Homo sapiens: one gene and its partners. The protein of the gene in region 1 interacts with the protein of each later gene in a pairwise test. Each region holds a gene or a part of one and is shown in the gene's direction. Other genes may lie near its edges.

Evidence for each region.
Region 2: the proteins of SH3GLB1 (region 1) and CCNC interact in binary tests that used the Homo sapiens proteins (3 or more experiments, as listed by UniProt).
Region 3: the proteins of SH3GLB1 (region 1) and ATP5MG interact in binary tests that used the Homo sapiens proteins (3 or more experiments, as listed by UniProt).
Region 4: the proteins of SH3GLB1 (region 1) and RPS4X interact in binary tests that used the Homo sapiens proteins (3 or more experiments, as listed by UniProt).
Region 5: the proteins of SH3GLB1 (region 1) and GIMAP1 interact in binary tests that used the Homo sapiens proteins (3 or more experiments, as listed by UniProt).
Region 6: the proteins of SH3GLB1 (region 1) and MAOB interact in binary tests that used the Homo sapiens proteins (3 or more experiments, as listed by UniProt).
Region 7: the proteins of SH3GLB1 (region 1) and TTYH1 interact in binary tests that used the Homo sapiens proteins (3 or more experiments, as listed by UniProt).

The regions. Positions count from the first base shown.
Region 1 is NC_000001.11:86,718,076-86,721,575, forward strand, and holds part of SH3GLB1 (endophilin-B1), read left to right. Parts: intron 1-1,431; coding exon 1,432-1,560; intron 1,561-3,500. UniProt on the Homo sapiens protein: May be required for normal outer mitochondrial membrane dynamics. Required for coatomer-mediated retrograde transport in certain cells. May recruit other proteins to membranes with high curvature. May promote membrane fusion.
Region 2 is NC_000006.12:99,548,161-99,551,660, reverse strand, and holds part of CCNC (cyclin-C), read left to right. Parts: exon of another isoform or gene 1-632; coding exon 633-668; exon of another isoform or gene 669-1,068; coding exon of another isoform or gene 1,069-1,092; exon of another isoform or gene 1,093-1,351; coding exon 1,352-1,443; intron 1,444-2,085; coding exon 2,086-2,153; intron 2,154-2,261; coding exon of another isoform or gene 2,262-2,272; exon of another isoform or gene 2,273-2,349; intron 2,350-3,276; exon of another isoform or gene 3,277-3,364; intron 3,365-3,500. UniProt on the Homo sapiens protein: Component of the Mediator complex, a coactivator involved in regulated gene transcription of nearly all RNA polymerase II-dependent genes.
Region 3 is NC_000011.10:118,407,477-118,410,347, forward strand, and holds the end of ATP5MG (ATP synthase F(0) complex subunit g, mitochondrial), read left to right. Parts: intron 1-1,523; coding exon 1,524-1,622; 3' UTR 1,623-2,371; downstream 2,372-2,871. UniProt on the Homo sapiens protein: Subunit g, of the mitochondrial membrane ATP synthase complex (F(1)F(0) ATP synthase or Complex V) that produces ATP from ADP in the presence of a proton gradient across the membrane which is generated by electron transport complexes of the respiratory chain.
Region 4 is NC_000023.11:72,271,542-72,274,248, reverse strand, and holds the end of RPS4X (small ribosomal subunit protein eS4, X isoform), read left to right. Parts: intron 1-276; coding exon 277-448; intron 449-859; coding exon 860-1,017; intron 1,018-1,476; coding exon 1,477-1,578; 3' UTR 1,579-2,207; downstream 2,208-2,707.
Region 5 is NC_000007.14:150,722,199-150,724,784, forward strand, and holds the end of GIMAP1 (GTPase IMAP family member 1), read left to right. Parts: 3' UTR 1-2,086; downstream 2,087-2,586. UniProt on the Homo sapiens protein: May regulate lymphocyte survival. Required for normal levels of mature T-lymphocytes and mature B-cells.
Region 6 is NC_000023.11:43,767,451-43,770,950, reverse strand, and holds part of MAOB (amine oxidase [flavin-containing] B), read left to right. Parts: intron 1-1,532; coding exon 1,533-1,644; intron 1,645-2,234; coding exon 2,235-2,297; intron 2,298-3,332; coding exon 3,333-3,485; 3' UTR 3,486-3,500.
Region 7 is NC_000019.10:54,414,008-54,418,263, forward strand, and holds the start of TTYH1 (protein tweety homolog 1), read left to right. Parts: upstream 1-1,456; 5' UTR 1,457-1,545; coding exon 1,546-1,671; intron 1,672-3,094; exon of another isoform or gene 3,095-3,128; coding exon of another isoform or gene 3,129-4,256. Other genes in the region: LIM domain-containing protein A-like, read left to right, coding at 3,129-4,256. UniProt on the Homo sapiens protein: Calcium-independent, swelling-dependent volume-regulated anion channel (VRAC-swell) which plays a pivotal role in the process of regulatory volume decrease (RVD) in the brain through the efflux of anions like chloride and organic osmolytes like glutamate.

The DNA.
Region 1 (3,500 bases):
TTCACCTGGGCTGGAGTGCAGTGGCACAATCTCTGCTTACTGCAAGATCTGCCTCCTGGGTTCAAGTGATTGTCCTGCCTCAGCTTCCCGAGTAGTTGGGATTACAGGCATGCGCTACCACACCTAGCTAATTTTTGTATTTTTTTTTTTAGTAGAGACGGGGTTTCACCATGTCAGCCAGGCTGGTCTCAAACTCCTGACATCAAGTGGTCTACCTGCCTTGGCCTCCCAAAGTGCTGGGATTACAGGCATGTACCACCACACCGGGCCAAAATGAAGTTCTGAAATTTAACTAGTATCTTCTAAATGGTTATGTTTTAAAAAGCTCTTTTTGGTTTTAACTATTTAAAGGTATTTAATTTCTGCTTTAAAACTTCTGATTTTGTACTAGAATCTACCACAAAAGCAAGTATCATTGCTATACTCTATTTTATGTATTATAACTAAGCCTTTTACCAACTCCTGAAATGTTTCTGTTACTGGTTCAGCTCATTTTTTAAATTTTCAGTGCACTGTGTGAAACTTCCGCATGCGTAGGAATCTATGTGAGGTACTTAGAGGGAACCTATTTGACTTAGCTTCAATTTATGCTTAATCGTTGTTTCTGGAAACTTAAGCCATTTTTTCACTTGTCCTGAAATACCTCTAGGTTGGACAGCATTGTAAATGTTAATATCTTTGGTCTTAAGCATTTTGCTAACCAAGTGTTTATTCAGCTTTTGTTTTTTTCCCCTTTCCATTTATTCTAATGTTCTATTATTGCTTTAACCTTTCGTATTTTAAACTTATTTTTAATGATGAAATCTTTTGAGTGAATGCATGCTCAGAGATATACTTGTATACTTTAAACATAAACTAAAGCCAAGGCATCATATTGCTGATCTGTCTGTAGACTATTCCAAGCCTGGATTGTTCTATGCCTTAAGCGCCTGTGTCTATATTTAGACTCTAGGCAAGAAAAAGAGAGAGCAAATGCTCATGCTAAAGCTGTCAGATGTAAGTCTTTGGTTCTTCCAGGTACTTTATATCTGTATTTTCCTAGCCAGAAATCCTGATTTTGAAATTATGAATGTACATTCAGAGTAAAAATTAGAGTTAAAATGCTACAAACAGGGCAAAGACACCTTCAATAAATATTAAGTGAATTAATCAGTCCTTTTCTGGAACTTAAAATCTTGTAGAATACTCAAATAATAATTTTATTTTATTTTAAAATGCTTTTGTGCCAAGATATTTTATCAAATTTCTAAAATATAATTTTTTAGTTATATAATAGTCTAACATAAAATTTAAAAAATTATTTATTAAGATATGTGCTTGAATGAATGCTAACTTTAGGAGATGATAAATGGCTGCTGATGGGGGAAAAAAACAATCTTCTAATTAGTTTTGCTTTTTAGAAATCATTGGTAATTTTAACCTTTCTCCTAGATGCCAGGATAGAAGAATTTGTTTATGAGAAACTGGATAGAAAAGCTCCAAGTCGTATAAACAACCCAGAACTTTTGGGACAATATATGATTGATGCAGGGACTGAGTTTGGCCCAGGAACAGCTTATGGTAAGTGAAATGCAAAAAGTTCTAATAAGGGATATCTTTATGTTTAGATTTATTAGAGATGTCATTAACATATTAGTAGGCCGGGTGCAGTGGCTCACACCTGTAATCCCAGCACTTTGGGTGGTTGAGGTGGGCGGATCATGAGGTCAGGAGATCGAGACTATCCTGGCTAACATGGTGAAACCCCGTCTCTACTAAAAATAACAAAAAATTAGCTGGGTGTGGTGGCAGACACCTGTAGTCCCAGCTACTTGGGAGGCTGAGGCAGGAGAATGGCGTGAACCTTGGACGTGGAGCTTGCAGTGAGCCAAGATCACACCACTGCACTCCAGCCTGGGCCACAGAACGAGACTCTGTCTCAAAAAAAAAAAAAAAAAAAAAACATAGTAGTAGAATTGGTTTTAACTTCAAATTTATGTTAAAAATTTTTGATGAAGTGAGAAATATAGGCAAATATATACAGTTAAATGTAATATTTAATATATTCAAGCATATATTTAGTTATTCAGAGAATTCACATCTTTTTTAGTTCTAAAAAGTTTAATGAATTCTTCACTTGTTCTCCCAGTGATCTTACAATACCTATGTTATAATACTTGTGATATTGCAATTATTGTTTGCATATGTCTCTTCATTTTTAAAAAAGCTTTCTTAGGGCTTATTTTATGTTAAAGGTACTTGGCACGTAGTTCTTGAACAAATCAGTGCTTTTGTTATAATTTTGCAGTAATGTCAGTAACCAAAAAATATTAACAATTGTTATCTCTGGATATTTGGATTACATTTCATTTCTGTTTTTCTCTTATGTATTTCAAATTTTCTATAGCCGTGGTTTAGTTACACTCGCTTTATTAGTTGCTGTACAGACTTTAAATGTATAGCCCTGAAGCTCAAAGTTACATACACATCTTTATTGTCACTCTAATTTTCTCATAACATGAGACTGTTACAGATTTCAGTAGCTTCTTTTCCTGTTGTTTATGTCTAATAATAATTCTCTTTATACATCTGCAAGATACTGGTCTTTGGATATGAAATGGTAGGTAGATTAAATTAATTTCTACACATAGTTCTGATTTACAGAATGGTTTATAAATTCTAGGATTAAATGAATTTTAAGCTTTAGTAGTTATCTTTATGTCAGAAAGAAATAACCTAAATATTGTTGAATGCCACTAATCCATTGACAGGCTTTTTTAGGTACACAACTTTGAAACTTCTACATTGTGTTCTTCAAAATCTAATTTTTAAGTTTGAAAATGCTTAGAACTTCAAAATAAAATTATTTCTGAATTTTACTGTTAATTTTTAGAAAAATGTTATACATTAAACAGATGTTTTATTGCCTACTTGTGCCAAGCTCAGTTAGATGCTGGGATCATAAAGGTATGTGAAAGGAACCCAGCAGCCCCTTCCTTCACCAGGCTGAAGAAGGTTTTAGCAGAGCATGAACATTAGTAAAGGCTTCTAGATTTTCTTCCCTTTTAAATCTGCTTAATCTGTTTGCACCTCTAGTAATTCTAGTGAATGTACCCTGGTTATTAGAATTGGGCTTTGTGAACCTATTACCTTATTAGTAATTAATACTAAAAATTGAGTATCACAGGCATGGGCTAAGCATTATATAGTATATATATTTACATATTAATTCTCATTTATATCCTGCTTTTAAGATAAATTATATTACCTTCATTTTAAAGACAAGGAAACAGGTTTGGAGAAGTTAAATAATTAATCCACAGTCACAGCTAGTATAGTAATTCAAATGAAGATCTGTCTGTATCCAGTGACGGAGCTCTTAACTACTATCTGTATTACCTTCCTTATCAGTCAGATCAAAGCTTATCCTAACATGAAGGGATTAAGATCCTTAGAGCTAAAGCTTATTAGAAGTAAAACTAGGAGTGGAACCCTGATCTTGGGGCTTCCTTTCTTTCTAC
Region 2 (3,500 bases), on another chromosome or scaffold:
GGCGATTATCAACCCTGGCTGCTCATTAAATCACCTTGGGAACTTGTAAATAATACTGATGTTGGATCCTTTCCAGAACAACAAAATCAGAATTTTCAGCCTTGGGGCTCCCAACATTGGTACTGTGTAAAAGGTCCCAGGTGATACTACTATTTAGCTGGGATTAAAAACTAATGGAACAATATGAAATATAAGGTGAATTTCTATTGACATTTTAATAGGTATGTCCTTTTTCCACCTTGCAAGGGATTTGTTTATTCTCTTTAAGTTACATTTTTTAAATTAAGTAGAAATAATTGTATTTTTGCATTTGCTGAGTAGAAAGTATACTGGAAAATCTGATGGTTTTACAGGATATTTTAAATAAAAGTGAGTAATAAGAATGATTGTGAGAAGCTGGCTTTTCCTTACAAGGATTAAAATCCTTATAATCATAATTGCATTTCTAATAGTAATTTTTTATTGCAGATATTTATTTTAATATAAACTATGTTTATTGTCTGGATTTTTAAAACTTTTTAGTAAAAATTTTTGATAAATTACTATAATGTCTGTAATTTATGTTAGATTAAGTGGACTTATCTAATTTGGTTTCATATTGACATTTCATTGATAATCTTTGTTTTAAACAGATATTAGAATGTGAATTCTATCTGTTAGAACTAATGGTAAGTAAATCTTCTGTGATTAATAGATTAAAACATTTTTAAATTAAATGAAGTTGGAAATTATTTAAAGAAATGATTTTAGAGAGGTACATTTTAAAACCATCCACCTAATATGTGATGGTGAAATCATGGTAGCCTATTTATATTAGCACCTAGAGTCTCTCTGAAGCCTGTAAAATAATTTGTATATCCTACTTAGGATGGGAAAATTTTTCTGTTCTATAGTAAGTAACTATAATGAAAGGATTACAAACAGACAAGTCAGGACATTAAACCACCATAAATTATGTGCACAATTTGTGTGTGCGTGCAGTGTTATTTAAAGATAGATTATGTCTTTGGCAGAATTCTGCTCCTCCAGTTGGGAATTATGAATTTATAGGCTAATAAGAGGTTTCAGTGTGTTGCAGATGTGACACTTTGAGTCTCTAAGGGAATGAATGGATGCTGACTGACTGCCAACCGATTTATCAAGGTATATTCCAGAGAGAGCACTGCCTTCACTATTACGGTAGAGTTTAGGGCTGTCATACTGCTAGCTTAAGAGAATAAAAGGGAAGCAAGCATGAGTTAGTGAAATTCACTTTGAAATACACAATTACAAATCAGTTGGGTAATGATAACATTTTTGTGTTGTAATAAATCTGTTTTTTATACATACACATTTTTTAAACTGTTTCTAGGATTGTTGCTTGATAGTGTATCATCCTTATAGACCTTTGCTCCAGTATGTGCAGGACATGGGCCAAGAAGACATGTTGCTTCCCCTTGCATGGTAATTAGAACAGAAGTTATTAATAGTGTAACATGTTATTAGATAGGAAGGTTGACAATTAAATATGAAGTTAAGTATTTTTAAAGTCATTAAACTATTGCCCCAAGATATTTTATGTTGAGCAAAATACCACTTGTTGAATTTTAATAACTATAGTGGTGTAAATGCCAAAATGAAAACAATCCTAAATTATCTGTTCCATAAATATACCTATTAAAATTTAATTTTATACAAAACACAGACTGTTAACATAAAAATTAAGACTGAAGTTATCTTTAAAGTAATCAGAATACTTTTTGGTAGTCTGCAACATACATATAAATTTACTGTATAATTTCTGGTTTTTTAATTTGATTTTTCTGATTTTTAAAAAATTAGAAAAATGTGTTTATAATTTGTTATGAGATTTTGAAATTTAAAATATATTTAGCTGTAATTTTATTCATTGATATGTGCTTATTTGTTGTCACATTCATGTATCCATCCTTTTGCCTTGATGTTTTCACTTTTATAGCTGTGCTTCAGTAGTATAAAAGGAAATAAATGTGTGCAAAGATGGGAAATCTGGCCCTCTCTGGAGGAAATATACAATCAGATGAGGTAGTTCTGCTTTCAGTAATAATATGATTTACATTTCTATAGGAGGATAGTGAATGATACCTACAGAACGGATCTTTGCCTACTGTATCCTCCTTTCATGATAGCTTTAGGTATGTAAGCATGGTGTGCCTTTATGAGTTAAATTGTTATAAACTTATTTAGGTCATCCTAAACTAAATTTCACCCTATTGTACTTTATGTTTTTATGTTCCATGAAGTAATAGACTAATCCTTGCATGTGAGCTTTCAATAATATGAACTGCAACTGTCATAAATCAGGATTATTATTCCCCCACCCCCTTTTTGGTAAGTTTTTTTTTTTTTTTTTTGAAACCATTCAAAATAGTTTTAATCGGTGTCTGAATAGAACATATTTGTTTGTTTAGAGGGAAAAGTTCAGAATTAAGCCAGCTAATATTAGTTGTAGCATGTAAAATAATTGGGGCTTTCATATCCTGAGCCCAAACAAATACTCAGAGGTTGAGTAAAGGAGCATCTGTGGTCCATAATGCTTGGCTGGAGGAAGACGTTAAGTACATTCATTCTACAGTCTGTGGAAAGCAGTGCTGTAATGGGTGGAGTCAGATAGTCCTAGGCTTAAACTTTACCTCCTTTACAATTGTGGGAAAATTATCTGACCTTTCCGTGTTTGTTTCCTTAATTGTAAAATGGAGAGAATACTAATAATTCCACTGAGCCGTTTGAAGAATTAAATGAGATAGGTTGTAGAGCACCAAATAATGCCTGTTATATATTGGGCACTTGTTAATTTTTGTTCCTTTTCCTTCTATTGATTTTTTTTTTTTTTTTTTTTTGAGATGGAGTCTCACTCTGTCTCCCAGGCTGGAGTGCAGTGGTGTGATCTTGGCTCACTGCAACCTCTGCCTCCTGGGTTCAAGCGATTCTCCTGCCTACAGGAGGATTATAGGTGTCCACCACCATACCTGGCTAATTTTTGTATTTTTAGTAGAGACAGGGTTTCGCCATGTTGGCCAGGCTGGTCTTGAACTCCTGACCTCAGGTGATCCACCCTCCTTGGCCTCTCAGAGTGCTGGGATTACAGGCGTGAGCCACTGCACCCCAGCCCCTTCTATTGATTTTTATAACTCCATCCTCTTGATTTTCCCCTCTTATTTTCCATTGGTTTGTCTTTGTTCAGTTGTTCAATTATTCCTTAAATGTTGATGTTTCTTGGCCTTCTTACATCAGGGCTGACAAATAGGTTATACTTACACTTCTGTATTACTGGCAGTTCCCTGAAAGGACTGGATTTGAAAGGATTTTGAGTGGTGTCCTACCCAGTGGGTAGGAATACTGGGATCTGCATAGGTAGGAAGGAAGGGATAACAGAACATGTGTCACATCTTTGCCATCCCTGCTGTCTTCTTCTTGGGTACTTTAACTGAGATTCATGGCTTCTACTATCACTTACATGCCGAAACATTTAAATCTCTTTA
Region 3 (2,871 bases), on another chromosome or scaffold:
TGTCACAGTCAGGAAGCTAACACTTCTTATATATAAGATAAAAATACCAAACTGGGTTATTGAATTGTGTGAAGATAAAATCTAAAAACTGTAAGAATTAGAACTTGCAGCCATACGCAGTCACTTCCTGCCTGTAATCCCAGTACTTTGGGAGGCCAAAGTAGGAGGATCGCTTGAGGCCAGAAGTTCAAGACCAGCCTGGACAACATAGCAAGGCCCTATCTCTATCCAAAAAAGTGAAAAAAAATTGCCAGGTGTGGTGGCATGTACCTGTAGTCCCAACTACTTGGGAGGCTGAGGCGAGAGGATCGCTTGAGCCCAGGAGTTAGAGGAGGCAGTGAGCTCTGATTGTGTCACTGCCTGGGTGACAGAGTAAGACCCTATCTCTTAAAAAAAGGAAAAAAGGCTGGGCGCAGTGGCTCACGCCTGTAATCCCAGCACTTTGGGAGGCCGAGGCGGGCAGATCACGAGGTCAGGAGATCAAGACCATCCTGGCTAACACGGTGAAACCCCATCTCTACTAAAAATACAAAAACTTAGCCGGGCGTGGTGGCGGAAGCCTGTAGTCCCAGCTACTTGGGAGGCTGAGGCAGGAGAATGGCAAGAACCTGGGAGGCGGAGCTTGCAGTGAGCCGAGATCGCGCCACTGCACTCCAGCCTGGGTGACAGAGCGAGACTCCATCTCAAAAAAAAGAAAAAGGAAAGAAAAGAACTGGAACTTGGATTTTATTTGCATGATCCAAGCACAGAGTACAAAAAGCCTAAACAATTGCTAGTTTTAGAGCCTACATCCTGGGAAGTGTGGTTGTTTTTCAGAAGACTTCCATAAATTTCTGGTCTAATTTGATGGGGAAAATTCACTTCCAGAAGTGCTAAAAGGAAAAGGTCCAGTTTTGTTATGGAAAGTTATTTTTTCAACTAGAATTTCAAGATCCATATTATTGCTCCATGTATTAATAACAGTGCTTTCCTGAGCCATATGTGCATATTTCTCTTTGGGACAACAAAATGTTGATATGAATACCAGATACTTAGTCAGAGTTAAGTCAAATACTGAATGAATAAAAATGAGGTCTAAAGGGGAAGACAGCACTTCATCTTTCAGCAGATTTTCTTTTGCCAGACAAAAATGTCTATTCAGAGACTCGGCCTTCCTATAGCCATCCTATCTAAATGCGCCAGCTATATCCAGGATGTGGATTGTTTTAGGGCTCATAAAGTGTCTCATAAACTTATAATGAAAGGGTTAAGTCAGTTCAGGTCTTTAAAGAATGCTTTGAAAGAATTTATATAAGCTTTGACTACTTACCTTACAAAATTGAAAGTTCAAGGGTTCTCAGCAGTTGAAGAGAAGTAATGTTAGTAATTCTCAACTTTGACTAAAACTGCCTTCTAGTTTGAATAGCATCTTTTATGTTCTTTGTCTCCTTAATTCTGGAAAAGAATAGTTTCAAATATATATATATATATATAATTATATATATATATAAAAGGTACCTTAAAATGTATGCTTCTTTTTTCAGGAAGCTGTGCTGAATGGTTTGGTGGCCACTGAGGTGTTGATGTGGTTTTATGTCGGAGAGATTATAGGCAAGCGGGGCATCATTGGCTATGATGTTTGAAGACCAATCTTTAACATCTGATTATATTTGATTTATTATTTGAGTGTTGTTGGACCATGTGTGATCAGACTGCTATCTGAATAAAATAAGATTTGTCAAAACTCAGTGTTTTCTCCATCAGATACTCCATGAAAGGTCACAATTTCTCTTGATATTAAGCTGGGTTGTCTTTAAACAACCCTAAATACACGTCTGTTTAGCCCGCAATTGGAAAGGATATATGTGGCAATATTAACCTGGTACATGAATATATGGGGATAACATTTTAATTTGAAGGTTTGGAATATATATATTTAAGCTTTATTTCCAGAACAGTGAGGGTTAGGTCTTGGGAAAACTATAACTTGCCAAAGTAGAAGAAATAGTAGTACCATATGCCAAAGTGATAGAGATGAATCATGTCAGTAGTTAGAATAACATTTCAACTGTTTTCTTTGCTAAAATCACAGAAAGACCCTATTGACAACATCTATGTCTGTAAAAATGTTAGAGTACTTGTCATCTTGAATATAGCCTCCCCAAGAGAGAACAGGGTGGTATTCTAAGTATGTTTCTTTGTAACATCTTTAGCAGTAGGACAGAGCCATACATGTGAAATCTGATTTTTATGTGTGTTATTCGTTTGTCTGGTTTTACTACCTTTGCAAAAACAAAATACCCCAAAGATATTTAAACAAGGTTATAATTTAGCATCTTCCCTGGATCTAAATAGTATATTATATCCTGAAATAAATGAAATGATTGCTATAGTCTGTCTTCTGGAGCGATTTTATTGGGTATATAGGAGAGATTGATCATTCCTTAGCTTTTCCCCGGGATCTTAGAATCCTTAATTGACTCATTGGTACTTTCCTAAATCCACTGTTATTCTTGCAGCCACAGCAAAACATGCAATACCAACTGATGATAACCAAAAGGTGGTTGCATATTTATTACAAAAGCATTATGGCTCACAATACAGTATTAATCCTTTAATAGTGTTGAACCTTTATCCGGTCAATCCCAAATTTACCCACTGCATTTAGAACACTGCTATTTTAGCCTAATAAACGTCACAGCTTATCTAAGTGATAGGCAAGAAAGTCTCCATAGAGACTGCCACGCTGCTAAAATGTGAAGTAATGCCTAACTTACTCCTGCAATAAACAGGTGGTCAAAACTGAAATGACCTCTTTTCAAAAAGTACTCAAAAAGACTGATATGAGAAAGGCAATCAGTTTCTTTTTCATACAGTGCATGATTATTCAAA
Region 4 (2,707 bases), on another chromosome or scaffold:
GATAAAGTTGAGTTGAAGGGAAGAATTCCCAGGGCCCCATAAGGCTTAAAGAGCCTGGGAAACTGGAGTGGCATTTACATTGGAGGAGTGGAGGGCAATGGTGGATGTTAGGAGGACGAGCCTAGAGAAGGGCTTTATGCAACATACACTTGAGGGTGGAAAGAACGATCAGCGTCACAATTAATCTGCAGCAGTTAGGGAACCCATGGTTCCTGTATAGGGTTAAAAAGTACATGTGAGATGGATTGAATGTGGCTAACCCTTGTATTTTTCTAGTACAAGTTGTGCAAAGTGAGAAAGATCTTTGTGGGCACAAAAGGAATCCCTCATCTGGTGACTCATGATGCCCGCACCATCCGCTACCCCGATCCCCTCATCAAGGTGAATGATACCATTCAGATTGATTTGGAGACTGGCAAGATTACTGATTTCATCAAGTTCGACACTGGTAAGCATCCTCTGTGCTACCTGGGCACCCTCTTTAAGGCCTAGATCATTATGAATTGCACAGGGTCTGGGTATCTTTATTAAAAACCATCTGCTCCAATCGCCCAGGTGTGTTTATAGCCAGAGGCACAAATGCTCAGAATACTCATTTCTTTTCTTTAAATTGTTTGTTTTTTATAGAGGAGGGTCTTACTGTGTTGCCCAGACTGTTCTCGAACTGATTATAGGTGTGAGCCACCAAGCCTGGCCACAAAATTTCTTACGAGAGTCCCGGGAGTCCTAGCATAGGCAGCAGTTCCATATGAGGAAATTCAAATGGGGGGAAAGGAGGAATAAAATTTGTTTGGACCCATCTCTGAGCTGCTTGTCATTTGTTATATTGAGTTGAAGCAGATTATTTCTTCCTGCCTAGGTAACCTGTGTATGGTGACTGGAGGTGCTAACCTAGGAAGAATTGGTGTGATCACCAACAGAGAGAGGCACCCTGGATCTTTTGACGTGGTTCACGTGAAAGATGCCAATGGCAACAGCTTTGCCACTCGACTTTCCAACATTTTTGTTATTGGCAAGGTAAGTCTGGGTTTTCCTTCTCTCTAGTCTGAGGAAATATGTAAATGCAGGTGGCTGCTGGGATTGTAGCATCCAGGCTCCTGGCTGGCTCTGCTGAACCTAGTGCAAAGCCTCTTCTGGATAGGACTCACGCAGAGCTGGGCTGAGTCATAATGATTAGCCTTAGGTACTACTAAACTTTGACTCACTTGAATAAATGGTAGGTGCCTGCTATGCACAATAAACTTCTAAGACATTAATTCTGAAGGGCATACGGTGAGTTTCATAGGACAGCCCCAGAAACCCAAGCAGTGGGTGCTTTTGGTAACCAGCATCTGTGTCTTGCAACTGCCTAGCTGATGCCAAGCACTCTCACAAACAGGCTTCAGTTCTGTTAAGTGAGGTGACAAATGTAGCATGTGCCAAGCCACTATGAGTTGGTGTGTGGTGGGTTTTGATTCTGCTTGTTTTCTCTTCCAGGGCAACAAACCATGGATTTCTCTTCCCCGAGGAAAGGGTATCCGCCTCACCATTGCTGAAGAGAGAGACAAAAGACTGGCGGCCAAACAGAGCAGTGGGTGAAATGGGTCCCTGGGTGACATGTCAGATCTTTGTACGTAATTAAAAATATTGTGGCAGGATTAATAGCATTTTGGTTTTGTGGGTTGTTTTTTTTTTTAATTCAGTTTCCTGCTATTTTACTGTATAACATGAACAGTGATTAAGTTCTCAGGCAGGCTTAGGCAGTCTGTTATTGGCTGGGCTTAGTTAGTGGTGGGAAGTAGAAGATACCAGACTTGGGAAAGGAACAGCAACTAACCAAGGAGTAGAAAGAGCCAAGAAATCCCGGAGTATTTATCTCCCCCGCCTTGACTTGGCCAAGAACTTCTCTACACAGTGGACCCCTCTGCCCTGTTAAGTTCCCTTGGCTTTCTAAAAATCTGCCCTCATTTTCTTCTCCAGTCTGTATTGCACTAGCCCATCCACAAGCCTGGCTCATCTGTTTTTCCCACTCCTGTGCCCATCTTGCCAAACGCAGGATGAAAATCTCCAGTTGCCATTAAAGGTGGTCATAAATGGGCTGTTGATGTTGCAAAGCATTGCAGTTCCTTGGACTTAGTGCCCTTATTCTCCAGCTGCCGCTGCAGTCCTCAACTCTGTTTTTCAGAGGACAGAGATGTAGAACATAAACTTGTTCTTGCTTGTCCAAATGTGTCGGGTCATGTCAGGCTTGCTTACCAGTCTCAGGAAGATGTGCCCCTGCTTCATGGGGCCTGCTGTTACACACCTGTTCCTCAATCCAGTCCCTCCAGTCTCAGTGTCAATTATCCTACCTTGTGATTTCAACCTTCTCTCAACCAACTCTCTTGTTCCTGTTACCCTATAAAGCATGTCTTCCTGTTAAAAACGAAAACCTCCCTTGCCACCTATAGCAGGGCTTTTCAACTTTGATACTGTTAACATTTGGGGCTACATAATTTGTGGGCAGCTGTCCTGTTTATTGTGGAATGTTTAACAACATTCCTAGCCTCTATCCACTAGATATTCACCCCCCACCCCCTGAGTTGTAATACAAAAATTACTTCAGACACTGCTAAATGCCCTCTGAGAAGCAAAGTTGCCCTGTGTTGAGAGGTACTGCCTTGTAGATGCTGTATCTCAGGTCACCTTCATTTAGCACCTTGCACTTAACTTGCTGTAGACCACTCAG
Region 5 (2,586 bases), on another chromosome or scaffold:
GAGGTCATGGAGACATGGGAAGCAGGTATTCACATTAGCTCTATTCAAGAGGAAGAGGAGGAGGGAGTGTGCGCAGGCGCCCTAGGGTCTTCCCCAGCACACGTTGGGAAGAAGGGGTCTGCAAGCATGCGCACAATTGCCAGCTCAGGCTAAGGACTGCAGGAGGTTCCAGGTGGGTTGCGGGCTTCGGGCAGGCTATGGTGAGGGGTCCTGAGGGCCTTGGTGACCGCTGCAGGGAGTTGGACTTTTTGAAGCGTGGCTCAAGAAAAACCCATGTTTAATTCCTGCCTTTCGCTTCCTCAGCAGCCTTTCTGGGCCCAGGCAGGGGCCTCGAGCCAGGGAAGGATCCTTTGATGACCAGAGGGGACAGCAGGGAGGGCACAGCGTGGTCGTCCACGGTCACTTGCGCACGAGCCAGTGCTGCTGCTGGTGTTAGACAACAACTTTTATCAAAGTGGTTTAATGTACAGCAGCAACAAAGCTGCTTTGTGGAGCAGGGCTCCCAATAGGCAGTGTGCCCAGAGTAGCAGCTCGGAAGCAGTACTGCAATCACATTTATACCCACTTTCAACTATATGCAAATTTAGGGGTGGATTATGCCAAAATTTCTAGAAAAAAGGTCGTAACTTCCAGGTCGTGGGATTGTTGCTATGGAAAGGAGCCAAAACTTCCAGCTGTTGCCTTAGCAATGGTAACCTGACGTGGCACTGGTGAGTGTGTTTTATGGAGAGACTCTTTCACCTCTTCCCTTTCAGCTTGTCTTCAGTGTGGTCTGGAGCCCAATCCCCACCTCCAGAGTCTAGTCCTGCCTCCTACCTCAGTAATAAAAAGTAGTAGTATATGGTTAATTGTCAAATACATTTGCAAAGTGTAATCAAAGATACATTACCAATCTGAATCTCAAAATGTGCTATCATCTTTGAATTTGAATAATGTATTATTAAAGAAGTTACAGTTTTCCTTTACATTCAATAACATTTCTTTAGTGGTTTTCTTTTTCAGATACTTTGATTATGATCTTTTTTTTTTCATCTTTGTATCCCCGTTATACAACCCAGTGCCTGGCATAGAAAGTGGGATCAACAAATGTTTGGAAAATGAATTGTAAAGTTGACTTTCCTGTACCTTTTTAATATTAGATTTCTAGCTACCAGACTTTTGACCATTTTCTAAATTTTCTACCATAGATAACAGAAAATTCTTTCGCGCAAGCATGTCATTGTATTAATGATATTCTCCTGCCCTAAGGAAATTTACTTCCCTTCAAGCACAGGGTCCCCCAAATTACTGTATTTCCACCCCTTTCAGCTTATTTTATCCTTTTCTCCTGCTACAGAACAGTTGGCATTCACCATTCCCTTCGGTAAAGTCTTTTTTTAGGCTGTGGCTTAAAGGTTGCTTTTTCCCCCATAGCTCAAGGTTAGGCCTTGTGACCTCACTTATGTAATTTGAGTGATTTGATAGCACAAATCAATTTTATACTTAAATTACAGCATAAAACAGCACTGCCTCCTGTTGGAAAAACTTGCTTGCTAATTTTAACCAGACACAGTAAAAATACTGTCCAATACCTCAAAAATTGTGTAAATATATATCCATTTCAATTGTCCCCCTTCCTCTCCTCTCCTTTTATCTCTTGGAAGATAAAAATGTATGGGTCCTGTGCTGATAATGTTTCTGTTCATATTTCTATGCCCTGGTACCTGGATCAGCTTTTGTTCTACACAAAAAGACTTGTATCTGGCTTATTTCTGAAAGCTAGTGTTGGCCATGATGAACTTTTAGAGCAAAAGATTTCAGGCAGAGTACATTCTTACATATTCTTACACAATCAATATTCAGTTCCAGCCCGCACAGTAGCCCTAGCAAATGCCAGTGCTCCTTCCAGAGATTCACCTATGGATTCAGTACCCCAGAAGAGAATTTCTGTAAATTCTTGGGGAAGCTATAGCTAGACTATGGCTCAACACTCATTTTTCCCCCATGATTCTTAATCTAACAGTGGCAATGTTGGCCTCTTCTTAGGCAACTAGATTCGGTTCTTGCTTATTCTGCCAATAAAATACTTTATTGAGATGCTTACAAATTTGTCCCCTCCTCTTTATTTCTTTAAGAAGTTATCACTCCATATACTGGATGTTTAGTTATAATTATTGGTTTGAGTCTTATTTTTATACTTTCAATCACATTCTTTGCCTAATTCTTCTCATATTTTTATATTTTCTTTCCCTCCTCATAATTCTCTTTACATACCACTAAGTTTAGGCACTTGGACTTTTTTTACTTTCAAAATGGTGTTATATTGTGCATATCCTCTTGACTTCATACGTCTGAAGACTCCTAGACTATCTTTTCTACTACATGCTAGCAGAATGTATCATGATGAACACTGAAGAGAATTGCATACCACTGCTCAAAAATTAAACACACACACTTGCATGCATGCAAACGTGCGCGCGCGCACACACACACACACACACACACCAAGGATAGACATCTCAATCTCAAGAAATAAAAAGGAAAGAAAGACTTTCTGACTTCCAGTTCTGCAGAAGGATCAACTCCAGGTTTTAAGCCTGAATTATC
Region 6 (3,500 bases), on another chromosome or scaffold:
GACAGGATGAATAATGGCATGTTGACGGTGCTTTCCTTATGGTATTTTTGTCAGAGCAACAATGAACTGCCCCTCTTACAGGCCAAGTGCTATGACATTTCAGTCCCTTGTATAGCATGTGGGCAGTCTACTAACTATTAAATATTATAGGGTGATGATACACCAGGCAAAGAATATAAGATAAAAATAGAGACTTTGACATCTGTTAGACATGGTTCAAATCCTGGCTTTGCTATTTTCTAGGAGTGTGGCTCTTGGCATATCACTGAACATTTCTCCAAGCCTCAGTCTTCTCATATGTAAAAATGAGATAATGATAATAGTAGCTACATCACAGAGTTCTTTAATAGATTGAAGAAATAATGCAGTAGAGAGAGGAAGTATAACTAAGTGGTTAAGACTGTAGGTTCCAGAGTCAGATTGCCTGTGTTCAAATACCAACTCTGCTACTTACTAGCTGTGACCGAGAGCAAATTACTTTGTCTTTGTTGCTGGTTAGGTTCCAGGAAGCAGACCCTGAAACAACGATTAGCAGACAGGATATATATTAAGGCATGCCCTTAGGATTGGCAGCTGTGGAAGGGAGAAGGAAGCAGGAGTGGGCATAGGGAGAACTTGGGCTGCAGTGCAGTTCCAGTGAAGGCCTCAGCTGACCCCAGAGGAAGTTCCAGAACTAGAATGGCCCTTCAGAGTGGGAGGTCTCAAGTTGGAGCTTGGGAATCAGGTATTTACAGCCCGTGGTGATCAGTCACTGGATGCAACTGCTATTGGAAGGAGGCATGACCTAGTAGGTAACATAGTTTTTTTTAGCAGAGGCAATCTCCAAAGAGGGCTGACATCAGTAGGCCCTCTTCTGGCAGCACTCCCAGCAGCTGGGAATAAGTCTTTCATTCTTGAAGGGGGCCTGCGTGGTTCATCACAATGTCCACCACAGTCTACCTCCATATTCTTATCTGCAAAATGGTGATAATAATAGTACCGACCTCACCAGTACAGGCAAGTGTTCAAGGAATAGGAGTTATGGAGCCATAGTCAGACTCTCAGATTTGTTAAATGTTACTGATTGAAAGGGTCTTAGAAATCAGTGGACCATTCCCTTTAAGAGGCAAGGAAGCCAGAGCACAGTGAGAGTAAGTGATTTGCCAAGTTCACTAGTGGAATAGCCAGTGGGGAATTGGGGGCATGTATCACCTTGCCACAGAGCCAGTGAGCCATAAAGGGAGCCATGTGACTGGGCTTACACAGTCCCTCACTTCATGTTGATGAAGCAAATACATAATTTACGTCCATTAATGTCAGCTCCTTCACCTGCAACTCTTGGTGCAGGAGTGAACTTTGGCTTTTATTCTATTTTGTTTGTGACAAGGATCATGTAAGAGCTGGAGGAACCACATAAACATTATTCCAAAATTGCCAATGTCCTTCTTGATTGTTTAGAATCTGTGGAAGCTGACCAGCATTGGTCTTTATGGGAAAACTTTTCTCTGACTCTCTGAGACTGACCACTTTTGCCTCTTTGGTTTTGTTCCAAGGGTTCTACGCCAGCCAGTGGACAGGATTTACTTTGCAGGCACCGAGACTGCCACACACTGGAGCGGCTACATGGAGGGGGCTGTAGAGGCCGGGGAGAGAGCAGCCCGAGAGGTAGGGTCTGGGGTCATAGATTATGGGGAAGGAGGCAACTCATGGTCCTGACATGTAGGTCAAAGATATCTGAGAGCCTGGAGACCAACTCTCCAGTAACCCCCATCTTAAGACCCATAAAATACTATTTTAACTATTGTCTCAGGTGAAGTGAACACCTTAGCCCGAAGTAATAATGAAAATACCTAACATGTCACCCGAAGTAAAAAGAGCCCATGGGGCAAACGATCAACCTGACTATACTTGAAAGGTAACCTAGGTCTGATATTCTAGAACCAAACATGCTTCTATTAGGACTCAAAATTCAATTCATTTCACAGGAAAGATTTTCTGACAGTTCCTCTGATGTCATCCCTATTTGAGGTGTGTTCATAACTATTAAAATTTATGGTAAGCCTAATGATTGGAACCTCTTATACCACAGGAGAAAGACCTTTTGGCGCCTCTTAAAGGTTGTATGGAGTGTTCTGGCCTTTACCTTGGTGTTTTTGATGGATATCTCAAGAGACAGTTACTTAGTCCTTTAGGGAGCAGATTAGAAGAAAGATGGTGTCACTTTTGCTATTTGCCAGTGTGTTCTTTCATTTCAGATCCTGCATGCCATGGGGAAGATTCCAGAGGATGAAATCTGGCAGTCAGAACCAGAGTCTGTGGTAGGCTATGTTTTATTTCATGAAATTAGATATCTTTTCTCTAAACCCATTATTTTCAAGAAGAGCACACTTGTATATATTCACATACCTTTTCCTAAGTGATTCAACTAAGTGATTTAAACATGAATGTTTAAATAAGTATCATGGGTTAGGGTAGAGGTGAGAGATTTAGATGAACTTTGATAAATTTGTAGCTGTCACATTCATTACAGATTATTAGGAAAAAATATTTTTTGATGAGGAGGGAGACATTTCTCGGAGACTTCTAAAAATAATAACTCAATAAATGCCTGTCAAATAAATATCTAGCCTGGTGATTCTCCACATGAGGTAGGAAAAGAAAGGAAAGTGTGTTAGCATCTCCTGTCCAGGGACAAACAAATGGAATGAAATGGAGAATATTTAGATTAAAATTTTATTTTTAATATACTCATCATTTTTGTAATAAAATCCTAGGAAGTTTTCCTGGCTGGAAGGAGGGATGCATAGAGGTTAGAGTGCAAACGCACTTTAGAGGACAAAGTCACAAAGGTCAGAATTATTGCTCTATCCTTTTAAGTGTGAAGTCAAAGAGAATAGGCCTGCCACTCCACAGTCATTCTCTTAGTGCTTCTGCCAGGGATGGGATTGTGGGCTGTAGGGACCATTGATTCATTTACTAACAAGTATTTATGGCACACGTGTTCTGTATCAGCCATTGTGGCAAAGGCACAGCAGCATTTTTGTGGAGCTCAACATCTGGTGGAGAATGCAGATGATAACCAAAAAGTACAGAACAGTGAAGAAGACATGCTGAGAAAAAATGCAAAAGGAGAATGTCATCCTAGGCTGGGGTCTCAGGAAAGAAAGCCTCCCTGAGGAAGTGAAGGGTCCAGTGAGGAAGACAGGGTAAACAGTATAAGCAGAGGGAACATCGTGTTTACTGGTCTAGACGTTGGCAAGAATGGGTCATGTTCAGAGAGCTGGAGAAAGTACAGACTTTCTGGAATAAAGTGCACAAGCCCTGTACTAATACCCAATGTTTTCTGAACCTAGGATGTCCCTGCACAGCCCATCACCACCACCTTTTTGGAGAGACATTTGCCCTCCGTGCCAGGCCTGCTCAGGCTGATTGGATTGACCACCATCTTTTCAGCAACGGCTCTTGGCTTCCTGGCCCACAAAAGGGGGCTACTTGTGAGAGTCTAAAGAGAGAGGGTGTCT
Region 7 (4,256 bases), on another chromosome or scaffold:
CACCACCATCACCAACATCATCACCACCATCACCAACATCACCACCACCATCACCACCACCACCACCATCACCAACATCATCACCATCACCACCATCATCACCACCACCATCACCACCATCACCACCACCACCATCGCCACCACCATCACCATCACCAACATCATCACCACCATCACCATCATCACCACCGTCACCACCATCACCACCACCATCATCATCATAATTATCATCATGACATGTCAACATAATCATGTCTTCACCATCATCATCATCATCACCATCACCATCATCAACACCACCACCACCATCATCATCACCATCACCACCATCACCATCATCATGACATCATATCACCAACATAATCACCACCATCATCGTCATCACCACCACCTCCGCTACCACCAGCATTCCTCTTTTCCCTAGCCCTTTCTTGCCAATCTGGAGCAAAATATGGAAATGGGTTAAGTGGAGAACTAATCTCCCTTTCTTCCACTCATCCCAATTCCCACAAGAGAGGCCACGTGTGTGGTTTCCAGATGGCAAAGTCTCACCCTGCCCTACAGCAAGAGGGGACCCCTGGGGCCAGATTCCTGAGCACCTAGTTTTGGCTGCAATAGTGACAGTCTGGGTGATGATGTCAGGGTGGCCAGGTCCCCTCCCAGGGTTGGCACTTCCCCATCTATCGGTGTGGCATCGGAGGATTCCAGTGAGATGTAACATGGGGAGTGGCTGGAAAAATACTCTGTAACTGTATGGCGAATGCCAAGGGGCAGGGGTCCTTGTATACACCGAAGTAATCCCGAGTCAGTTTACAGGATGGGAAGGGCCCCTATATAGATGACCAGGGTCCTTATGCAGGTAGAAGGGGTCCTTATGCAGCATGAAGGCTTGCTACACAGGCGTGTGGATTTTTCCATACATTCTGGAGTAGCCTCTACACATAGGAGTGTTTGTGCTTAGAAGCTGTGTCCTTATGCAGGCTAGGAATAAAAGTGGGACGGAGATTTTACACAAATACGGGCATCTTTTACAGGTGGGAGCACTTTCGTACACAGAGGACTTCTTATCCATGGAATTGGCCGTTCTTTGTAAAACGCTCTGTACTTACTAGCAACCTTTACACAGACATGAAGTTTCTCCATAAGGATAAAGGGATCATTATGTTTTAGGTGAAATAACAGTATGAGTGGCCTCGTATGGACAAGGAGGGCTGATTTCAATCGCGATGCAAGCCAGCTGTCCGGATGCCGCCGACGCCAGCAGCGCGGTACCTGCGCGGGCAGCAGGTGGGAGCCGCGACCGGGGTGGGGCGCGGAGCGCTGGGGGCCTCCCGACTCCCGCAGTCCCCGCCGCGACCACCAGGGGCAGCACCGTCCCCGCCCGGCCCGCGCCTCCCTCCCCCCAATCTCCGCCCCCCACCCCCTGCCTCCCCCCCGCTCCCGCTCCCCTGAGCCCAGCCAGACCCCGCGCCGCCCGCGCCCCGCTCGACTCCGGAGGCTCCCGCAGCCCCGGCGTCCGCCCCGCTGCCCCCTCCCCCGGGGGCCATGGGGGCGCCCCCGGGCTACCGGCCCTCAGCTTGGGTGCATCTCCTCCACCAGCTGCCCCGCGCCGACTTCCAGCTCCGCCCGGTGCCCAGCGTTTTCGCGCCCCAAGAGCAGGAATACCAGCAGGTGGGACCGGGCGCCAGGGCCTGGGGGCCAGGGCTGGGGGCCGGAGCTCCTGGGTCCCGAGGGAGAAGGGGGCTGGGTCACAGATTTCCTGAGCTCCGCCGGAGGCTGGGGGCCGGCCCGGACTTTGGGGTTTCGGAGGGAGGAGGAGCCTGGGGGCGCCCATGCCTGGAGGTTCTCCTGGGACGCGCGCTGGGGGTCCAGACCTCGAGCTCTCTAAATAAGGGAAGGCTGGGGACCTGCACCCCTGAGTTCATGGAGAGGAGGGGAGGGGGGCCCGGATTCCCGGGTGTCTGATACCTGCCTGGGAAGCCGGCCTCCAGGGTCATCGGGAGGGTAGGTCTACTCTTCCTGCCCTAAAAGATGACCCTGCCCCACAGGATCAGAGCAGGTGAATATGTCCCAGATAAGGTGGGACCCAGGAGACAGCGGACCTGATAACGGTGGCGGGGAAAACGCTGGCTGCTGCGGTGCTGGGATGGGATTGAGAGTCTGAAATGGGGAAGGGGGCTTCAGGGGCTGAGGACCAGGGCTGGAAAATGAAGGGGCTCTGGGAGAGGAAGCTTCTTGCCCGTCCCAAGAAAGAAGGGGTGGTCAGGGCGCTGCAGGGGTGAGGGCCGAGATGAGGCTGGGTTTGGGGAGCCTCGGGATGACAGACCCGGGTCCCGAGGGTGGGGCCGGTGTGGGAACCTCACAGAAGCCGGTGTCCCTGGGGAAGGGGCCCGGCTCGGGGCAGCTCCAATGGGCGAAAGAGCTGTCCCCTGACCCAGTTTAATTCAAGTCCTTGACTTCGAGATTAATGAGGAGAAAGGCTTGGCTGAGCTGGGGACGGGTGGGGGTGCTGGGAGTCCCGATGTGGCCCCAGGACGGGTCCTGGCCCTGCTGATGGGGCCTGAGCCCCTGGGCTCCGTCTTGGGTTGCTCCTGGGAGAAGGGGGCTGGGATTGGAGAGCTCAGGGGGCGTGGAGGGGGTCCCAGAAAAGCGCGGAGGGGATGAGTGCTGTGTTCTGAGCTATTTGGGTCACGGCTGGCACAGCCCTGAGCAGCTCTTCCCCGCCTGCTCCTCGCCGCCCCCTCTCCCCACACACGGGGACCGCCGTCCCCTCGCCCACAGCCTCGCGGTTACACAACGGCCACCTCCAACAACGCCGCTCCACCGGCTCCGGCCTCGGCCCAGACTCACGCCCGCTCTGGCCCGGAGACCTCCCGAAGCCGCACGCGGGGATCCGCGGCCCCAGTCACCGCCAGAGGCACGGGTTTGGGGGAGCCTCACTCCGCCCCCACGGTCGGGGGTCAGGGTCAGGGTGGCAGGGATGCGCGGGCAGAGCCCCACAGCCGAGGAGGGCAAGGGGGACCCCTGCAGGGACGCGACCACCGTGGGTACAGCTGCAGACACAGCCAGGGCCTCAGGGACACTGGCCCGGGGGAGGCACACAGCCACACGCACACACTCACTGGCATATGCACAGCACACACACACGTCCACTTACTCCCATTACACACTCACATGCACACACATATGCACAGGCACACCCAGACACGCCCACTTATTCCAACACACTCACATGCACACACATATGCACAGGCACACTCAGACACACCCACTTACTCCCATTACACACTCACATGCACACTCACATGCACACACTCAGACACGCCCACTTACTTTCATTACACACATGCACACACACATATGCACAGGTACACACACACGCCCACCTACTCTCATTACACACTCACATATGCACACACACATACCCATTTACTACTCCCGCTATGCACTCACACCCACATACAACACACGCATATAGACACATGCATACACTCACATGGATATACCCACTTACACATACACAATCACACATATGCACACGCACATTGCGCACAGTGACTCACAACACACACATACACATGTATAAGCATTTACTCCCATATACAAGCACACACTGCACTTATATATATATGCTTACACACTCATGCATGCACCGTCACATACACGTTTATACTCCCATACACACACACACGTACATTCCATTCACATCTACACACACATGCACACACATATTGACTATAGCATTCATGTGCACACACACACTCACATGCAGTCACGCATCCACACACACACTCATCCACACTGTTACACACACACAACCGGACCCACTCACAGGCCCAAGGAACTGTGCCCAGAACACACAAATGCCCACAGATGTTCTCATTTGCAGACAGCAGTGCACCCAGGAGACACACTCAGGTGCCCCCTCATCTCATGGAGACAGCCCAAAGATAAAAACATCCAGTCTCAACCAGAAACACAAACACTGCACACACTTGGGACACACACACACACACACACTGTGCCACTGTGTGTGTGTATGTGTGTGGACAAAGGCAGAAACACCGTGGTTTAGGGGAAACAGCCTTGGCAAGTCCAGAGGTGTGACTCTGATCCCAATGTTGTCCCTCCATGCTCCGGGGCTCAGTGCAAACCCCCTGGGCCACTGTGGGCCTCTGGGACCGCACAGGTCAGCTGTGAAATCCCCGCCACGTGGAGAGCCCTGTTATTCTGCAAGGCTCTGCCCACCGCAGAAC